Homo sapiens: one gene and its partners. The protein of the gene in region 3 purifies or fractionates together with the protein of the main gene of each other region. This does not show direct contact. Each region holds a gene or a part of one and is shown on either strand. Other genes may lie near its edges.

Evidence for each region.
Region 1: the proteins of GPR156 (region 3) and STX8 purify together in Homo sapiens (co-immunoprecipitation; 3 studies listed by BioGRID and IntAct, with this or other methods). This does not show direct contact.
Region 2: the proteins of GPR156 (region 3) and PEX14 purify together in Homo sapiens (co-immunoprecipitation; 3 studies listed by BioGRID and IntAct, with this or other methods). This does not show direct contact.

Annotation. Positions count from the first base shown.
Region 1 is NC_000017.11:9,506,198-9,509,846, forward strand, and holds part of STX8 (syntaxin-8), read right to left. Parts: intron 1-3,649. UniProt on the Homo sapiens protein: Vesicle trafficking protein that functions in the early secretory pathway, possibly by mediating retrograde transport from cis-Golgi membranes to the ER.
Region 2 is NC_000001.11:10,481,317-10,484,965, reverse strand, and holds part of PEX14 (peroxisomal membrane protein PEX14), read right to left. Parts: intron 474-3,649; exon of another isoform or gene 1-473. UniProt on the Homo sapiens protein: Component of the PEX13-PEX14 docking complex, a translocon channel that specifically mediates the import of peroxisomal cargo proteins bound to PEX5 receptor.
Region 3 is NC_000003.12:120,283,013-120,286,761, forward strand, and holds the start of GPR156 (probable G-protein coupled receptor 156), read right to left. Parts: upstream 2,211-3,749; 5' UTR 2,017-2,210; exon of another isoform or gene 1,872-2,016; intron 1-1,871. UniProt on the Homo sapiens protein: Orphan G-protein coupled receptor involved in the regulation of hair cell orientation in mechanosensory organs of the inner ear.

The DNA of each region.
Region 1 (3,649 bases), on a different chromosome or scaffold from region 3:
GTAGCTCCTCTCCTCTCCCCACCTGTCTGCATTCTGTCCAAGCTGAGAAGATCATCTTGTCCAGGACACGACCTTCTGACCAATTCAACAAAGAGATGAACATTAGACTCATCTTTAGAGCTCTCAACAGATTCATGAAAAATCATAGAATAAATGATGGGTGGGACATCAGCAAGATGACTGATTAGAGTCAGCTGGTGCTCACCCGCTCCCCCCCCCCCCCACCCACCTTTCTTAGGAAAGGACTAAGGCAATGAATAAACAGCTAAGATTTGACTTCAGTGTGGGAAAGTGCTGAACTGCAGTGGGGAAGTGGAGAGGCCCCTGTGGTGACTGAAAGTCTAGGAGGGCAGCATGAAGGCCCCCAGCCTCTGTGGCCCCATCTCTTCCACCAGGACTGAGGAGGCCTGGACATATGAAGGCCTTCTCCCTGTGAGGAAAAGGTAAGCGGGAGATTCCCACCTGCCCCCACTGCCACTGCAAACACCTACAGTCCTTATTACAGGAGGATCCCCCAGTCCTTGCAAGTTCTGAGCCCAGTTTGGAGAGCTGCTGGGAATTCGTACAGTTGCACTGCCCCAGATTAGGAGCATTCCCCACTCCCCACCCACTCCATGAGCCAAGTTACTACAGCATGGCGCCATCTTTAGACCACAGCTCCCTCTGGAGTGTGCCTTCCTCTTGGGGCCAGTAGCCACTGCACCTTTCCAGCACTGGGACTCCATTTTCATGCCACCAAAGCTACACAGGTGGCTGAACTCCACAACCCAGGGCTCGGGAATGGCTGTGACTCTGGTCCTGCAATGAAGGGAAACCACCCTCTGCACTTTCAGCCACAGAAACAGTCCCACCCAGGGCAAACCCACTCTTGAGCCAACCAAACTGCTGCATACCCTCCTGCAAGCAGAAGGCCCTGAGCAACTGACAGGCTAGCAGAGTGACTACGCTCCTGCATCCCGGATCTATGAAACAGTCGGGCAGTGCAGCCCCCTACAGACATGCCCCCGGCCTGCCCAAAGGCCCCACACCTCAATCAGGGCCTGAGAAACAACCCTGCAGGCTGCCCCTGGCAGACATACCCCCAGGCCAGCCAAGTAGCCATGTGTCCATATCTCAGGCCTGAAAAACAGCCCATGGGTCACCCCTAGCGGCAACTCCCCTAGGCCAGCCGAGCAGCCTTGTGTTCATATCCCGGGTCTGAGAAGCAACTCCTCAGGCCACTCCTGGCAGACATGCCCCCGGGGCCATCAAGCAGACTTATGCCCACCTCTCATGCCTGAGAAATAGCCCTGTAGGCTGTCCCCAGCAGGCATTCCCCACAGGAGAGCTGAGCAGCAGTGTGCCCATGTCCCAAACCTGAGAAACAGCCCAACAGGCCACCTCTGGCAGGCATACTCCCAGACTGGCCAAGCAACCAAGCAACTGTGCCCTCAGCCAGAGTAAGGGCACCAACCCCAACCCCAGCAAGTGAGACCCCAAGTTGGACAACCCACCATGTGAACGCATGCATCGCTGACCTGACAAATAGCCCGGTGAACACATCCCTGGCAAAGTCATGCCACCACCACCACAAAGCCTCTCAGCTGAGGCCACTGAGACACTCACAAATGTCACTGGCATGGATTACAGTTAAAGAAACTACACAAAAACTACACTACTATGCCCACCTGGAACCAAAGCCAATGCATCCCACTGAACCAACACCCCAAGATCCATTCATACAAATATTTCTTTCCCTGCAAAACCTACCACATAAAATTGGAAGAGGCAATTATTCCACCAGATGCATAGACATCAACATAGGGATACATCGAACATGAAAAAGCAAGGAAACATGACACCTCCAAAGGAATACAATAATTCCTGTGTAATAGACCCCAATGATAGAGAAATATACAAAATGACAGAAAAAGAATTCAAAATAGTAATCTTACAGTGAGATACAAGATAATAGAGCTAGACAATTTGATGAAATCAGGAAAACAATTCATGACTTGAACAAGAAATTCAACAAGAAGATAAATACCATAAAAAAGAACAAAACAGGTATCCTGGAGTGGAAGAATTCAATGAATAAGTAAATAAGTACAAGCTAGAGCTTTACCAAAAGACTAGACCAAGCAGAATTTTATTTATTTATTTTTTTGGAGACAGGTTCTTACTCTGTCACCCAGGCTGGAGTGCAGTGGCATTATCTCAGCTCACTGCAACCTCCACCTCCTGGGCTCAAGTGATTCTCCCTCCTCAGTCCTCCTGAGTAGCTGGGACTACAGGGGCATGCCATCACATCCAGCTAATTTTTGTATTTTTTGGTAGAGATGGGGTTTCACCATGTTAGCCAGGTTGGTATCGAACTCCTAATCTCAAGTGATCTGCCCGCCTTGGCCTCCCAAAGTGCCAGGATTACAGGTGTGAGCCACCATGCGTGGCTGAATTTTTGAACTTGAAGACAGATCTTGTGAAATAACACAGAAAGATGGGGGGAAGAAAAAGTAAAATGGAATGAAGAAAGCCTACAGAATTCATGGGACACTATTAAGTGAACAAATATTCACACTGTAGGTGTTCCAGAAAGAGAAAAGAAGGGCAAATGTACAGAAAACATTGAATGAAATAGTAGCTGAAAACTTCCCAAGTCTTGGGAGCTTCCAGATCCAGGAAGCTAAAAGAATCCCAAATAGATTCCATTCAAACAGGACCCCTCTTAGGCACATTAGAGTCAAATTATCAAAAGTCAAAGACAAAGAATTCTAAAAACAGCAAGAGAAGGACTGGATGTGGTGGCTCATGCCTGTTATCCCAGTACTTTGGGAGGCCGAGGCTGGCAGATCACGATGTCAGGAGTTCAAGACCAGCCTGGCCAACATGGTGAAACTCTGTCTCTACTAAAAATACAAAAAAATTAGCTGGGCATGGTGGCAGGTGCCTGTAATCCCAGCTACTCAGGAGGCAGAGGCAGGAGAATCACTTGAACCTGGGAGGCGGAGGTTGCAGTGAGCTGAGACCACGCTACTGCACTCCAGCCTGGGCAACAGAGCAAGACTCCATCTCAAAAACAAACAAACAACAATGACAAAAAGAAACCAGCAAGAGAAAAGCATCAAATCACCTATGAGGGAGTTCCCATTAGACTAATAGCAGATTTCTCAGCAGAAATCTTACCAACCAAGAGAGAATAGGATTTTATGTTCAAAGTACTAAAAGAAAAAAAAAATCTGCCAACCAAGAATATTACATGCAGCAAAGATATCCTCCAGAAATGAAAGAGAAATAAAATCTTTCACAGACAAGCAAAAACGAAGGTAATCCATCACCACTAGACCAGTCTTACAAGAAGTGCTCAAGGGAGTATTACATCTGGAAGTGAAAAGATCATAACAGCCATTATAAAAACATGTGACACTATAAAACTCACTGGTAGAGCCAATATACAAAGGAAAAAGAGAAAGAAATCAAGCCTTATCACTTCAGAACACTACCCAACCACAAAAATAAACAGTAAGAGGAAGTAAGGAACAAAGGATATAGAAAACAGCCAGAAAACAATAAAATGACAAGATAAGTCCTCACCTATTAATAATAACCTTGAATGTAAGTGAATTAAATATCTCATTAAAAGACATAGACTGGATAACTAGATTAAAAAAAA
Region 2 (3,649 bases), on a different chromosome or scaffold from region 3:
AAGGTGACAGCATGTACGTGACTGCATTAATGTGGGTGAGATACGTCGTGGTAATGTCCACTTTACTAAGAGACTCTCTCTTCTGCTGGCTTTGAGGAGGCAAGTGGGAAGACTCATTTGGCAAGAAACTGAGGGCGGCCGCTGGCTGACAGTAACACACTAAAGTCTCCAGTCTCATGGTCCATAAGGAACTGAATGCCACCAACAACCACACAAGCTAGGAAGCAGACCCCTCCCTAGTCAGCGACCACAGTCCTGACAGATTTCTCAATAGTAGCCTGGTGAGACTCAGCCCAGTGGTTTCCTGACTCCTGACCCACAGAAACCATGAGATAATCAATGTGTGCTGTGCCAAGCGGCTAAATTTGTGGTAATACTGTTACGCAGGAATCAAAAACTACTACAAATGTCCATCAACTGGTGAACAGATCAACAAATTGAGATATAGCCATCCATACGATGGAATACTACTCAGCGGTAAAAAGTAATTCATGGTCAGGCGCAGTGGCTCACGCCTGTAATCCCAACACATTGGGAGGCCAAGGCAGTTGGATCACATGAGGTCAGGAGTTGGAGACCAGCCTGACCAACACAGTGAAACCCCATCTCTACTAAACAAAAAAAAATTGGCTGGACGCAGTGACTCACACATGTAATCCCAGCACTTTGGGAGGCCGAGGTGGGCAAATCATTTGAGGTCAGGGGTTCAAGACCACTCTGGCCAACATGGTGAAACCTTGTCTCTACTAAAAATTCAAAAAAATTAGCCAATTAGCCGGCCATGGTGGTGGGCGCCTGTAATCCCAGCTACTGGAAGGCTGGGGCAGGGGAATCTCTTGAACCCAGGAGGCAGGGGTTGCAGTGAGCCAAGACTGAGCCACTTCACTTCAACCTGGGCAACAAGAGCGAAATACCATCTCAAAAAAAAAAAAAAAAAGGTAATTCATTACTGATAATTACTGATACATACCATAACACAAATAAATTTCACAAACATTATTCTGAGCCAAAAAAGACATAAAAGAATACATAATTCATTCATATGAAATTCTAGGAGGGACAAATATACTCTATAGTAATAGAAAACAGTTCAGATTTCCTAGGACCACAGGCAAGGATTCAATGGGAAGGGGCGTAAGGGAACGTTTAGGGATACTGAAACTGTTGATCTTGCTTGTGGCAGTGGTGGTTACACAGGTTTAGGGTGGTAGTGGTTACACACGTATATACAATTTGTCAAAACTCAAACTGATCACAACACACCTATTAGAATTCCACAGTAAAGTTTAGGCCATAAGACTTTGTCAGTCAATACAATATTAAACTAAAATACTAAAAAAAAACTTGGCCAGGCCAGGCGCAGTGGCTCACGCCTATAATCCCAGCACTTTGGGGGGCCGAGGCGGGTGGATCATGAGGTCAGGAGATTGAGACCATCCTGGCCAACATAGTGAAACCCCGTCTCTACTGAAATATAAAAAGTTAGCCAGGCATGGTGGTGCACACCTGCAGTCCCAGCTACTCCGGAGGCTGAGGGGGGAGAATCGCTTGAACCTGGGAAGTGGAGATTGCAGTAAGCCGAGATCATACCACTGCACTCCACCCTGGAGACAGAGCAAGACTCCATCTCAAGAAAGAAAAAAAGAAAAACTTGGCCATGTTCACACCTGTAATCCTAGCACTTTGGGAGGCCAAGGCAGGAGGATCACTTGAGCCCAGGAGGTCACGACTGCAGCGAGCCATGACTGTGCCACTGCACTCCAGCCAGGGTGACAGAGTGAGACCCTGTCTCAAAAATTTAAAACAATACTAGCAAAGTTGCAAAGAAAGCAACTAATTTAGCAAGTTAACTTTATGATGGAGAAATGTGATAGACACCACCTTAACCAAACAATCAAACTTCATCTTCGACAATGGGACTCGTTCCTCCAGATATGATACACAGATAGACACAACGTCACTTACATAATATTCTCACAAAAGAATGTTTAACCCGGATCTAAATGTAAGGGAACAAATCAGACAAATCCAGATGGTGGAACATTTCACAAAACAAGTAGTCCAGACTCTCCAAACATGTCAATACCATAAAAAATAAAAAACGTAGATGAACTCACCAGAAATGCACATATTATGTTCACAAAAAGACACGTACAGGTATTTTCACAGCAGTACTATTTGTAATGACCCTAAAGGTGAAACAATCTAATGTCCATTAAAAGTAGAATGGCTCAGGCCAGGCACGGTGGCTCATGCTTGTAATCCCAGCACTTTGGGAGGCCAAGGCAGGTGGATCATGAGGTCAAGACATCGAGACCATCCTGGCCAACATGAAGAAACCCCATCTCTACTAAAAATACAAAAATTAGCCGGGCATGGTGGCACATGCCTGTAGTCCCAGCTACTTGGGAGGCTGAGGCAGAAGAATCACCTGAACCCGGGAGACGGAGGTTGCAGTGAGCTGAGATTGCGCCACTGCACTCCAGCCGGTGACAGAGCGAGACTCCATTTCAAAAAAAAAAAAAAAAGTAAGATGGGCCACCCGCAGGGGCTCACGCCTATAATCCCACCACTTTGGGAGGCCAAGGTAGGTGGATCACTTGAGGTCAGGAGTTCGAGACCAGCCCGGCCAACATGGTGAATCCCCCGTCTCTACTAAAAACACAAAAATTAGCCAGGCATGGTGGCCAGTGCCTATAATCCCAGTTACTCAGGAGGCTGAGGCAGAAGAATCACTTGAACCTGGGAGGCAGAGGTTGCAGTGAGCCAAGATCATGCCACTGCACTCCAGCCTGGGTGATAGAGCAAGACTCAGTCTCAAAAAACAAAAAGTAGAATGGTGGCCAGATGTGGTCACTCACACTGGTAATCTCAGCACTTTGGGAGGCCCAGACGGGCAGACTGGTTGAGCTCAGGAGTTCAAGACCAGCCTGGGCAACATGGCAAAACCCCGTCTCTACAAAAAATACAAAAATAATTAGCCAGGTGTGGTGGCATGCGCCTGTGGTCCCAGCTACCAGGGGAGCTGAGGTAGGAGGATGGCTTGAGCCTGGGAAGCAGTTTGCAGTGAGCCGAAATCGTACCACTGCACTCCAGCCTGGGCAACAGAGCCAGGCATTGTCTCAAAAAAAAAAAAAAAAAAGAGTAGAATGGTTAATAATAAATGGCCAAACACATTCATACAATAACTGTATAAAGCAGTGATAATAAACTGTCACTGTTCTCATCATGAATGAATCTCAAAAATATGTGTTAAGTAAAAGAAGCCTGGGAGACTGAGGTGGGAGGCTCACTTGAGGTCAGGAGTTCAAGACCAGCCTGGGCGACACAGCGAGACCCGACCTCTACAAAAAATAATTAGCTGGGCATCATAGTGCATGACTATAGTCCCAGCTACTCGGGAGGCTGAGGCTGGAGGATCACTTGAACCCAGGAGGTCAAGGCTACAGTGAGCTGTGATAACACCTCTCCACTCCAGACTGGGTGACAGAGTAAGACCCTGTCTCAAAAAACAAACAAACAAACAAACAAAGTTTAAGGCTGGACGCGGTGGCTCCCAGCACTGTGGGAGGCCGAGGTGGGTGGATCACTTGAGGTCAGGGGTTCGAGACCATCCCGGCCAACATGGCAAAACCCTGTCTCTATTAAA
Region 3 (3,749 bases):
TCAAGCTCTGTCCAGGACCAGATCACATATGTCTGGATTCTAAACACTGATTTTTATTAACAAGTTTGTTTTAAGATAATAAGTTTATAAAATGAGAGGTAGAAAACATCTCTGTATGTCTAAAATTTTTCATAATAAAGTACTGGAGAAAAAAAGGTGAGATAGTGATTTGCATCCTTTATCAGGCAAAATTCATCAGCAACTAAACATGAATGTTCTGATTCTCAAGACCTTTGCAAAATAAAGGCTCTGATTTTTTTTTTTCAACTAAATGTAGAACATTTCTTTCAACCCCCAAATCCACCTTTGCAGCCCAAGTCAGTCCACGTTGCACTGTTTCTGCAGCATGTCAGAGCCTCTGGCTTCTTTCCTCTCTCCCCCTTCCCCCAATTAATCTCTGAAACCTACATAAGAATGGAATAAAATGCAAATTCAAGGAGAAGGATGCAGTTTTCAGAGAAGGCCTCATCCTCCTCCTACCCTATAATGGAAATTCCCTTATGGTTAAACAACAAAAATGGAAATATTAAAACCCTCAGCTGAAAACAAACACTTAAGCACCTATTCTCCTTTCCAGAGAATCTGTTTCCCTCAATCATTATTTTTCCACTCTTTTGAGAGCCTTCTAGGCTGAAAGTTGTTTCATCTCACCCATCTTGGGTCTCTCCTAGGTCTCATTTCTGCCTTCACCAGGCTTGAAGTTCTATATCCCTAGGCTATCAGAACTTTGACTCTGACCAGGCTCAATTCTAGACTTTACTGGGGAATGGGGAGAAGCTAAAAGCTGGGGGTGGAAGAGAAGGGGAAACAGAGGGAACATTCCAGAGACAGTAGTGTCCCTGAAGGGGAATTAGGCTGGCAAAATGGGGACCAGAAAGCCACCTCTATTCCTCACAAGGGACACCTAACTCAAGCACAGCCTGCTAAAGCACTTTATTCTCCAGACTCAAATTGCCTTAACCTGTAAGCAAACGCTTCCCCAGCCATTTATCCGCAAGCGCATTTGCCCCACCTGCAGCAATGAAAGAAGCACTGTTTTTGCAAGCCGGGCTGCTACCCAGACTGCGAGGAGACATTCTGTGCAGAATTCAGCCACTGGTGGAGAAAAAGAAGTTTTTCTTTGCAGGCCTTGCTGCCTAATACAACTATATCAACAATTTCTCCCGCTGTGTAAGCCCCATCTGAAAATCTTTCCCTTTTATCTAGGATGCAAAAATGTAATGTTATCCTCCATATTCTGGTTTAAAGAACTACACCAGGAAAGACATTTTATGATAGGCTAGGGCATCATTTACCTCTAATTCAAGCATGCATGTACCTAGAAAACTAACAAAGGGGTAAGTTATGCCATGCCATGACTTCTCTTCCCAGATTTCTATCCTGAAATCTTAACAAAATTCGATTTTAAAAACCTCAAGGTTTGTATTCTTCACGAGTACATGGATACCTTGAGTTCTACCTAGAGGCCTCTAGTTTCTGACAGAGCTAACTTGGAAAGGGCTGCTTGCCAGGGTACAAGGATGTTGCAGCTTCCAGGTGACTCCCTCATGCCCAGAAGCAAGGCAGTTCAACAGACGCAGTGCAATACAATTGTCCCTTTTCAGGACTTTGCAATCTCCATGGGGGAGCCCATCGTGCCCGCCACTCTACACCCTGGGGGTGAACATGCCCTGCAAAGCAGATTCGGCGTGAGGAGACTCTGGAAAGTCTACAGGCGGTGGGAAACTGTTTCGGGATCTCTCATTTTCAGCACAGCCGGTCGCTTATTCAGCAGAAAACCCACGGCCCCATCTTCACACCAAATTACAGTACTCTCCCGTCTCTTCCACTGAAATTGCCACTCGCATCCCTGATGCGTGACCCCTGCTCACCTCAAGTTCCTATGAGAGTTTCTTTACCGGTTCCAAACAAACTGCCCAGATTCTGGAAAGGGAGAGAAAGCCCCTCCCCCTTTCCACTTTCACTTAATAATTAAGTGTTTGAAGTTTTGTGGATCCTTAAGGTCGCTGTGCTCACCTCATCAGCGTCGGACCGCCGAGAAGCGCCAAGCCCGCTGCTATGTGCAGGACGCCCACGGTCCCCCGGCGTCTCGCGCGTTCGCGGGGCTGGAAGGGGCGGGAAGGGGCGGGCCGGGGCAGAGACAGGGGCCCGCGCCCATCGCCGCGCCGGGAGCCTGGCGTGGAGGCGGCGGGACGGCGGCGCAGGCCTCTGAGGTGTGCGCGGGGCGCCGGGCGCCTCTGGCCGGGGCACTGGCTGAGCCACGCCTGCCCGCCCCTCCCTGGCGCCGCCCGCGTGGCGCGCCTCGACCCTGCTCTCCCGCGAGGGCCGGGAGGGCTCCGGGACCTTGCAGACTCCACGCGCCTCACGGCTCCTCCAGCTCCTCGGATCTTTCTCCTTGCGTCGCCGCCGAGTCCCCTGGGGCGGCCCCGCCTCCGGCCGTCTCCTCAGAGACCTTCCCTGGGGGGCGCCTTCCCCTCAGCGCCCCTTCCCGGGCCTCGAGCCAGCGGCTGCCGCAGGAGCTGGCCCCGGGGCGAGGAGCTTCAGATTCAGGTCCCTAGCCGGCCTCGGTAAGGAGACTGGAAGGATTCTCCGCGAATGCTCATTTTTATTTCTGGAGTGGCGTCGGAGTTACCAATTAGTTTTCTTATTTTATACTCTCTGGAGTTGCCAAATTCTTTACGTTGAGCTTTTGCTTATTTTATAATCAGAAAGACAAGTACGTTTCTTTTTCCAAGAATGCTTACAGGAGGCCACAAACAAGATGTTCGCACCCAGCCCACTGTCTTCCGCTTAAAAATATGTGTGAGATGTTGTGTTTAAGACACCCTCAAGGAGAAACATAGAGGGGAGACCTGGAAATGGTCTTGGGAATCCACTTAGACTTTCCATATTATATTTGTTTCATTTATTTTAAAATCTCAGACCTATTTATGTGCATTAGGACATTCCACATTTTTACAACTGCGCAGAGGAAATCTTTGGTTGTAGAGGACGGGAAGAGAGAGGCCAGGTCCGCAGACCCCACTGTGACAAGACAGTGGCTACATTCTTAACTGTTTTACACATTGTGATACCCAAAGACTTCTTTTCACAGGATTCTACTGAGGGGGAAAACAAGAGGAAGAAAGAAAGATAGACAAGGTTTTCCTCAAGGCAGTAAGCAAAAAGCTGGTTTCTCAGAAGAAAGAATTATGTCTGAGATTTTACCCAGGACTCTCCAGATCTCTCATTCTACACAGAAGGACCCTTTCATTTGGAACGTGCAGAAACTGAGGAGGACCATCTCTCTCCTCCATGGGGGCTGCCTGAGTTAAAAAGGCCTGGGTCCATCTTTTTTCCGTAGGAGAGCTGACTTCAGAGTCTAGAGCCAAATCTTCACTTCTGTGGCTCTAGATTGAGGATTTGCCCTTCTGATCTCTGTGGGGCTTTTTTTTTTTAACCTGGGAATTCCCCTGGGCTCTTCGGCTGTTATTCTCATCAACCCCTCTCTATATTCTGCAAGACATTGAAATCTTTCTCCCAGCTTGGCCCCCACCTCCAATCCCAGTATTCTCTTTTCTGAGATTGGAGTATTTCCAACCCCTCAGTTGCCAGGCACTGAAGGTTTTCATCTTCCAGGCCTGCCATGTTTACCTCTGAGATGTTTCTGGCAACTGTCCACTTCTCTGCATTCTCACACTGCTGCTCTTGATAAGCTTCGATTATCTGGGGCTGAATTGTTTCAATAATTTCCTAACTGATTTTCTTGC